2 separate regions of the Homo sapiens genome follow, and region 2 is linked to region 1. The links come from fine-mapping of genetic effects on gene expression. A gene starts in region 1. The other region holds a variant in brackets. All regions are shown on one strand. Distances are from middle to middle. Region 1 holds the start of DRC2 (dynein regulatory complex subunit 2). Region 2 has its middle 9.5 kb from the start of RND1.

Evidence for each region. PIP is the estimated chance that this variant, and not a neighbour inherited with it, causes the effect. A credible set is the group of variants that fine-mapping cannot tell apart.
Region 2: its variant is the best candidate, but not a certain one, in a credible set for the expression of DRC2 in atrial appendage (GTEx, PIP 0.53).

Annotation. Positions count from the first base shown.
Region 1 is chr12:48,901,870-48,906,257 of GRCh38, reverse strand. It overlaps DRC2 (dynein regulatory complex subunit 2), which reads right to left and starts at 2,125. Exons shown (of 8, transcript NM_033124.5): 1 at 1,790-2,125; 2 at 1,145-1,312. The coding sequence starts at 1,921. It also overlaps the pseudogene RPL32P27. RefSeq lists a silencer at 2,119-2,168.
Region 2 is chr12:48,873,195-48,877,582 of GRCh38, reverse strand. No RefSeq gene overlaps it. Among named protein-coding and RNA genes, the nearest start is that of RND1, 9.5 kb to the right of the region's middle. The variant A/G (reference allele first, on the strand shown) is at 2,267.

The DNA.
Region 1 (4,388 bases):
TGGTTATTGCAAATTTGAGGACTCTTAATATTTATCTCTGGAAGCTGCCCAGGGTCTGCTGAGCTCTTTCCCCAGGGATTAGGCTATGAAAGAGAAATGTGTGTTTTCTAGAGGGGGAATACCATGTTGGCAATGTATATTTTGCTGTTACTGTGGGCTTTGTTTTGTTGAAAATGGAAAAGACTCTGGCTGGGTGCAGTGGCTCACGCCTGTAATCCCAGCACTTTGGGAGGCCAAGGCGGGTGGGTCACAAGGTCAGGAGATCGAGACCATCCTGGCCAACATGGTGAAACCCCCATCTCAACTAAAAATACAAAAATTAGCCAGGCATGGTGGCACATGCCTGTAGTCACAGCTACTCGGGAGGCTGAGGCAGAAGAATCACTTGAACCTGGGAGGCAGAGGTTGCACTGAGCCGAGATTGTGCCACTGCACTCCAGCCTGGCAACAGAGCAAGACTCCATGTCAAATAAATAAATAAATAAATAATGGAAAAGACTAAGGAGAAGGCAGTAAATGGAGGCAGAATATTAAAAGTAAGACAAAAGAAGGGGTACAGAAAATCCCTTAGAAGAAAAGATAGGATGGAATCAAGAACTCAAGAACCTCCCAAGAGCATAAGGATGGCTGATTGAATTGCTTAGAAATCCAGAACTGCTCTTACCCATGGAGATCTTCTCAACCTTATCCAGGGCCACTGAAGTTGAATCAAGAGGCCAAACAATTTAGTTGAATGGAGCACTGCAGTGGGAATCAATAAACACATGCTGGAGTCCTGGTTCTCTCACTGACTAGCTATGTGACCTTGGGCAAGTCAGTTCCCCTCTGGAACTGAGCCTTCTGACATTGAAATGAAGGTGTGGGACTCATTTCAAGTCACTGGGTGATGTCTACTGTGCCTTATGACTCTACTATTGGATAGTACTGGTTTTGGGCAATAGATGACAAGAAGAGTGGGTCCTCTAAGGGAGAGAGGGATGAAAGCCCAATATTCTATTTTTTATTTCTGTGAAAACCATTATTACCAATAGCCTGGCTTTCTCACAGCCTGTGTCTTGTGAGGGCTTTAAGATGGATTCACTAGGCTCATTCTATTAAGAGGTCAGGAAGCCATACTCAAGGTTTCCTTGGAAAGAGTGCCTACCTTGATGACATTGTCCTTACAGTCCACCACTCGTTCAAATGTTTGGCTGAGGATCTCAATGTCCTTATGAAGTTCTCTGGTCTTGACTTCCCGAAGGACAGTTCTCCACTGTGTGTTAATCTTATTAAGGTTCAGAGCACTGTTGTGTTCCTCCTTGGCCAGCTTGTCCTGTGTGAAGGAATAAATATACCTCCAGGAAGTCAGGGCCTTTCAGTACAACAAACAAGATCACTCTTAATTTATCAGCTGACACCTTACCCCTTTTCGATGGGAACGGCCTGATGGCATTTAGGGAGGGCAAGGGTGAATTTCCTTCAGGGTGGGAGCATCAGAGTAGGATGTTGTTTGTAATGACCTATCTCCAGGGAGAATATCAGCATTCCAGACAGCTGGAACAGCTGACAGGACCTACGGTCCCAGTTCTGGGATTCAGTAAAGATTGCCAAGCCGTATACCACGCACCCCCTCCGTGCTTCGCAGAGAACACCCCCGCCTCCCAAACAATGTTGCCTGAAATCTAAGTATATCTGGGTCTCAGGATTTCCGGAGGAGGGGAGGTCAGGATGAAAATGAGGTTTCCTCAGTGACAGGGCCAGGGCAGGGGGTGGATGGGGTTGAGCAGGACATAATGCAAAAGGCCATCACCTTCAAGAACTGGCTGAGGAGCCTCTCCTTCTTTTTGGCCATCTCCTCCTCTGCCAGCAACTTCTGCTGAAACAGAAGCAGCTGCTTCTCATCGGACAGGGGCGTCTTGGCCATTTTTTCTTTCTTAGGCATGGGGGCAGGGGATTGGATCCGGGAAAGAAGCCTCGGTCTGCCTCGGCCCGCGTTACAGAGCTTAGAAGAAAAATGTCCCTAGAAAGGGGACTTCCAGAAGTGCCCCTGGTTGTGGGCGGTTGTGGGACCGGAGATCTCAGCCCTCGAACAGGAGAGATCCCCGGCTATCAGTGAGGCTGAGCTCTCCCACTGTAAGACGCGTCTAGTCTCCTAGCAACGAGGATATCGCTAACATGGAGAGGCAACAGGCTAGAAGAGTCCCTGTCTTGGAGCGCCCCCTACCCAGTGGAGGACCGCGGTCGGTTTTTGAGAGGGTCCTTTTAACTCTCAAAAATCTGTCTCCTCAGTGCATTTTATTTATTTATTTATTTATTTATTTATTTATTTATTTATTTATTTTTGACATAGAGTCTCTCTCTGTCGCCTAGGATGGGCACGATCTCGGCTCACTGCAACCTCCGCCTCCCGGGTTCAAGCAATTCTCCTGTCTCAGCCTCCCCTCAGTGCACTTTTATAAACCGTCCTCAGAACCCTTGGGAAGCCCAAGATCGTCAAAAAGAGAACCAAGAAGTTTATCCGGCACCAGTCTGACCGATATGTCAAAATTAAGCGTAACCGGCGGAAACCCAGAGGTATTGACAACAGGGTTCGTGGAAGGTTCAAGGGTTAGATCTTGATGCCCAACATTGATTATGGGAGCAACAAGAAAACAAAGCACATGCTGCCCAGTGGCTTCCGGAAATTCCTGGTCCACACGTCAAGGAGCTGGAAGTGCTGCTGTTGTGCAACAAATCTTACTGTGCTGAGATCGCTCACAATGTTTCCTCCAAGAACCGCAAAGCCATCGTGGAAAAGAGCTGCCCAGCTGGCCGTCAGAGTCACCAACCCCAATCCCAGGCTGCGCAGCAAAGAAAATGAGTAGACAGCTCATGTGTATGTTTTCTGTTTAAATAAAACTGTAAAAACTGCAAACAACAACAACAACAAAAACCTTTTTTAAAAAGATAAGTGTTGGAGAGAATGTGGAGAAACGAGAACCCTCATATATTGGTGGTAGAAATGTAAAATGGTGTAGCCACTTTGGAAAACAGTTTGGCAATTTTTTAAAATGTTAAACATAAATTTACCATGTGACCCAATAATTTCACTCTTAGGGATCTGCCTAAGAGAAATGAAAGCATGTATACACACAAAAACTTGCACAGGAATTTTCTTATCTGTCTCACTCATAATAGCCCAGTTGGAAAAATTGGAGACAACCTAAATGTCCATTAACATGTGAATGAGTAGACAAAATATGCTATGTCCATACAATGGAATATTATTCAGAACAAACTATGGATACCAGCTACAATGTGGATGAACCTCAAAAAGAATATGCAGGCTGGGCGCTGTGCCTCACACCTGTAATCCCAGCACTTTGGGAGGCCGAGGCGGGAGGATCGTTTTAGCCCAAGAGATCGAGACTAGCTTGAGCAATGTGGCGAAACCCCTTCTCCACAAAAAATACAAAAGAAGTTAGCTGGGCGTGGTGGTGCGTACCTGTTGTCCCAGCTACCCCAGGAGGCTGAGGTGAGAAGATCACCTGAGCCCCAGAGGTCAAGCCATAGTCAAGCCACTGCACTCCAGTTGGGTGACAGAGCAGCCCTGTATCAAAAAGAAACAACAACAAAAACAAAACAAACAAACCCTTTTTTTTTTTTTAAGACTGGAGTCTCACTCTGTCACCCAGGCTGGAGTGCAGTGCGTGATCTCGGCTCACTGCAACCTCCACCGCCCGGGTTCAAGAAATTCTCCTGCCTCAGCCTCCCGAGTAGCTGGACTACAGGTGTCACCACCATGCCTGCCTAATTTTTGTATTTTTAGTAGAGACGGGGTTTCATCATCTTGGCCAGGTTGGTCTCAAACTCCTGACCTCAAATGATCCACCAACCTCGGCCTCCCAAAGTGCTGGGATTACAGGCGTGAGCCACCATGTTCGGCCAAAAAAACCCCTATGCTCAGTGAAATAAGCCAGACACAAGTGATTACATATTGTATGGTTCCATTTATATGAAATATCCGGAAAAGGCCAAGCTATAAAGACAGAAAGTAGATTACTTTCTTTTCTTCTCCCTTCCCTTCCCTTCCTTTCTTTCTCTCTTTCTCTCTCCCTCTCCCTCTCTCTCTCCTTTTTTGACTGAGTCTTTCTCTGTTGCCCAGGCTGGAGTGAGGTGGCACAGTCTCGGCTCACTGCAACCTGCACCTCCCAGGTTCAAGTGATTCTCCTGCCTCAGCTTCCCAAGTAGCTGGGATTACAGGCACCCGCTACCACACCCGGCTAATTTTTTGTATTTTTAGTAGAGATGGGGTTTCACCATGTTGGATCACCTAAGGTCGGGAGTTCGGGACCAGCCTGACCAACATGGAGAAACCCCATCGCTACTAAAAAGACAAAATTAGCTGGGCGTGGTGGCACATGCCTGTA
Region 2 (4,388 bases), 29 kb after region 1:
TTTATATCCTTGGCCTTCAGCAGCCTGGAAGCAAGGCCCCATCTCAGTATCTGGCTTCAGTTGATTGCTTGGCCATCTCTGTCCCACCCACTGGCCCAACGCTGGGTTTCTGGAGCACATCCTCTGGTGCTTCTTGGAAAACTGGGTTGATAGAGCTGGAGGGGTCTTGGGGAGTGGCTCCGACCTCACACTGTATAGAGGAGAATGCCGAGGCCCAAAGAGAGCAAGAGTCTTGACTAGGCCCATTCCCACAGTCTACTAATAATACCGAGTACCTGCTGTTCCCAGGCACTGTTCTAGGTATGATACCAAAGTGAGAAGGTCACTGCACCTACAGAGTCCACCTTATCATAGTGAGGGAGAAAGACGATCAACAAAAAAATAGGTCAACAAAAACCATAAACTAGAAAAATATCAGAGTGATAAAGGCCATACTGAGAACATGAAAGAGAAGGATCAGGTGGCTACTTCAGGCTAGCTGACTTCTCTGGACAGGAGACACTTAACCTGAGATGTAAAGGATGAAAAGGTGCCAATGCGGGCAGTCAGGGGGAAGGGCATTGTTGGTAGAGGGAACAGCCAGTGAAAAGGCCCTGAGTATAAGTTTGGTGTGTGAGCACAGTGGATAGTGAAATCAATGTAGTGAGTCCTGACAAGCATTCAAAAAATGAAGTAGCCAGGCACAGTGGCTCACACCTGTAATCCCAGCACTTTGGGAGGCCGAGGCGGGCAGATCACAAGGTCAGGAGATCGAGACCATCCTAGCCAACATGGTGAAACCCCGTCTCTACTAAAAATAAAAAATTTAGCTGGGCGTGGTGGTGCACTCCTATAGTCCCAGCTACTTGGGAGGCTGAGGCAGGAGAATCACTTGAACCCGGGAGGCGGAGGTTGCAGTGAGCCACTGCACTCCAGCCTGGTGACAGAATGAGACTCCATCTTAAAAAAAAAAAAAAAGAAAAAGAAAAAGAAGTAGAAAAGAAAATATCAGAATGCATTGTAAAGGTTAATGTTTGAGGAAACTTTAGGAGACATATACATATATGCATGCAGAGATATATATAGTGTGATATATATTGATATATCTATATCTCTAAATATAGCATGAGTGTATGTTTTGGACTGTGATATAACATGTATTTCTGACTGTGACTTGTGAATAGAAAAGTTTTAAAGCCATTATTGGAGGAATTTTAAAAAGTTCAATATAGCTGGAGAGAGGAGAACTGCAGGAGATGAGGTCAGCCAGGGGGCAAGCATAAGTCATGTATGGCTCTAGGAACCAGGATAAGAAGTTGGATTTTATTCAAAATGGACTTGATGGCTGGGCTCGGTGGCTCACGCCTGTAATCCCAGCACTTTTGGTGGCTGAGGTGGGCAGATTGCTTGAGCCCAGGAGTTCAAGATCAGTCTGGGCAACATAGGGAGACCCCTGTCTCTACAAAAAATAGATAAAAAAATTAGCCAGTCATGGTGGCTCATGCCTTTAGTCCCAGCTACTCAGAAGGCTGAGATAGGCAGATTGATTGAACCCAGGAGGTTGAGGCTTCGGTGAGCCATGATCGTACCACTGCACTCAAGCCTGGATGGCAGAGTGAGACCCTGACTCAATTGAAAAAAAAAAAAAAGCCAGGCAAAGTGGTTTAGGCCTGTAATCCCAGCACTTTGGGAGGCCAAGGTGGGAGATCCCTTGAGCCCAGGAGTTTGAGACTAGCCTAGGAAACATAGCAAAACCCCATCTGTACAAAAAATACAAAAATTAGCCAGGTGTGCTGGTGCATGCCTGTGGTCCCAGCTGCTTGGGAAGCTGAGGTGGGAGGATTGTTTGAGCTCGGGAGGTGGAGGCTGCACCTCCCGAGGTGCAGATGGAGGTGAGCCGTAATCAAGCCACTGCACTCCAGCCTAGGTGACAGAGTGAGACTGTCTCAAAAAAAAAGTGGACTTGATGCCACAGGAAGACTTTAAGCAGAGGATGAACGTTATCTATGTAGTTTCTTGTGCTTTGTTTGTTTGTTTGTTTGAGACAGAGTCTTGCGCTGACGCCCCAGGTACAAGTGATTCTCCTGCCTCAGCCTCCGGAGTAGCTGGGATAATAGGCACGTGCCACCATGCCCAGCTAATTTTTTATTTTTAATAGGGGTTTAGCTGGGATTACAGGCATGAGCCACCTCGCCCAGCCTCTTGTGTTTGTTTTTAACCTAGCCATTTAGAAATAGAGAAACTAAATCTCCTTATAGCCATTTTCCTACCATAGCTGGTTTACCTC[A/G]CTTTTGCAGGCGAGAAATCCAGGGATGGGCAGGGGAGGGTTAGACTTATGTCCACCTTTGCCAGATCAAGAAAGACCTCCCAGAGGGGCCCAGGAGAGTAGATGCAAGAGCATCCCCAGGGAGGCTGTCACAGGGGGTGAGAAGGAGGAGGATCAAAAGAGGGTAAAACAGGCCGAGCACCGTGGCTCACGCTTGTAATCCCAGCACTTTGGGAGGCCAAGGCAGGCAGATCACCTGAGGTCAGGAGTTCAAAACCAGTCTGGCCAACGTGGTGAAAACCCATCTCTACTAAAAATACAAAAATTAGCTGGGTGTGGTGGCACCTGCCTGTAATCCCAGCTACTGGGGAGGCTGAGACAGGAGAATCGCTTGAACCCAGGAGGTGGAGGTTGCAGTGAGCCAAGATTGTGCCATTGCACTCCAGCCTGGGCGACAGAGCGAGACTGTCTGAAGGAAAAAAAAAAAAAAAAAGAGGGTAAAACAGGCTGAGGGAATTGCTGCTACCTAGGAGGATGAGGAGGTGGGAACTGAAGAGGAAGTAGGCCTGGCTCAGGGTCCACATCATTTCCCAACTCACTCCGGTGCTCCTGAGGTCCTTTCCTGCCTCGGAATTACTCTCTCCCATTCACCCAGCAAGTGTTCACCTTAGTCTTGGCCAAGCCCTGGGGTAGTGGCAAGAGAAGGCAGGAAGGCCTGCATGTGTGGTCTCCAGTCTCCTGACCCCAAGTGTGGCTACTCTGAACTCCCTTCAGCTGCCCTCTGCTCCTCTCTGTGCTTCCATTCCCTACCCCCAACTCAGCCAGAACGAGATGGAACACAGGCTTCTTCACCATCACTATCTTCACCACCTTCTTCTGTTTTTTTTTTTTTGTTGTTGTTGTTGTTTAATTTAATTTTATTTTTTGAGACAGGGTCTTGCTCTGTCACCCAGGTTGGAGTGCAGTGGCTCCATCACAGCTCACTGCAGCCTTGACCTCCTGGGCCCAAGTGATCCTCCCACCTCAGCCTCCTGAGTAGCTGGGACTACAGGTGCGTGCACCACTGTGCCCGGCTAGTTTTTCATTTTTTAATTTTGTAGAGATGGGTCTTACCAGGTTGATCAGGCTGGTTTCCAACTCCTGGGCTCAAGCAATCCTCCTGCCTTGGCCTCCAAAAGTGTTGGGATTACAGGCGTGAGCCACTGTACCTGGCCCCTTCCTCTATTTTCACTCTGGCCCCATCCTCGGCCACCTCCATACCTTCCTCCTAATTTTTTTTTAGTTTGAGAAGGCTCCAGTCTTCCCTCCTCATTCTTCTTCTTCTTTTCTTCTTCTTCTTCTTTTTTTTTTTTGGGACAGTCTCACTCTGTCGCCCAGTCTGGAGTGCAGTGGTGCAATCTCAGCTCACTGCAAACTCTGCCTCCTGGGTTCAAGGGATTCATTCTCCTGCCTCAGCCTCCCGAGCAGCTGGGATTACAGGCACACACACCATGCCCGGCTAATTTTTGTATTTTTAGTAGAGACAGGGTTTTTCCATGTTGGCCAGGCTGGTCTTAAACTCCTGACCTCAGGTGATCCGCCCACCCCAGCCTCGCAAAGTGCTGGGAATACAGGCGTGAGCCACCGCGCCCAGCCTCCCTCCTCATTCTTAGTCCAGCTCAGGTGGCTTGTTTTGTTTTGTTTTTTCTCCTCCTATTCACACATGCATACACACACATGCACTGGTCCTCTTCCGCAGGCCTCCTTCTCCTGCTTCCAAGCCATCCCATTCTCCTAGAACACTCCCTCTGGCCCACCTCTCAGCATCCTATTCTTGCTTTGCCTCATAGCTCAGTGCTACTTTTTCCAGAAAGTTTTACTGGAAAATTCTCCTTCTTTTTGTTTTTCCTTTAGCTCTCTCACCACTTATGTAACAATGCTCAGCTCCCAGGAAGAGGAGCAGAAGAGGAGCTGAGAAGGAGAAAGCAGCTCCCGGCAGCCAGGAACTTGCCTGGCAGTCTTAGCAATGCTTTGGTTTTCTCGTAAGCATTTCACAGAATACCAACATTAGGCAAGGCAATGCTGTGACCGACCTCGAGAGATCCAGACAGAAATAAGATCTCTCAGTAATCATATCTGAACAAAGAGAGAAACAAGAACATTG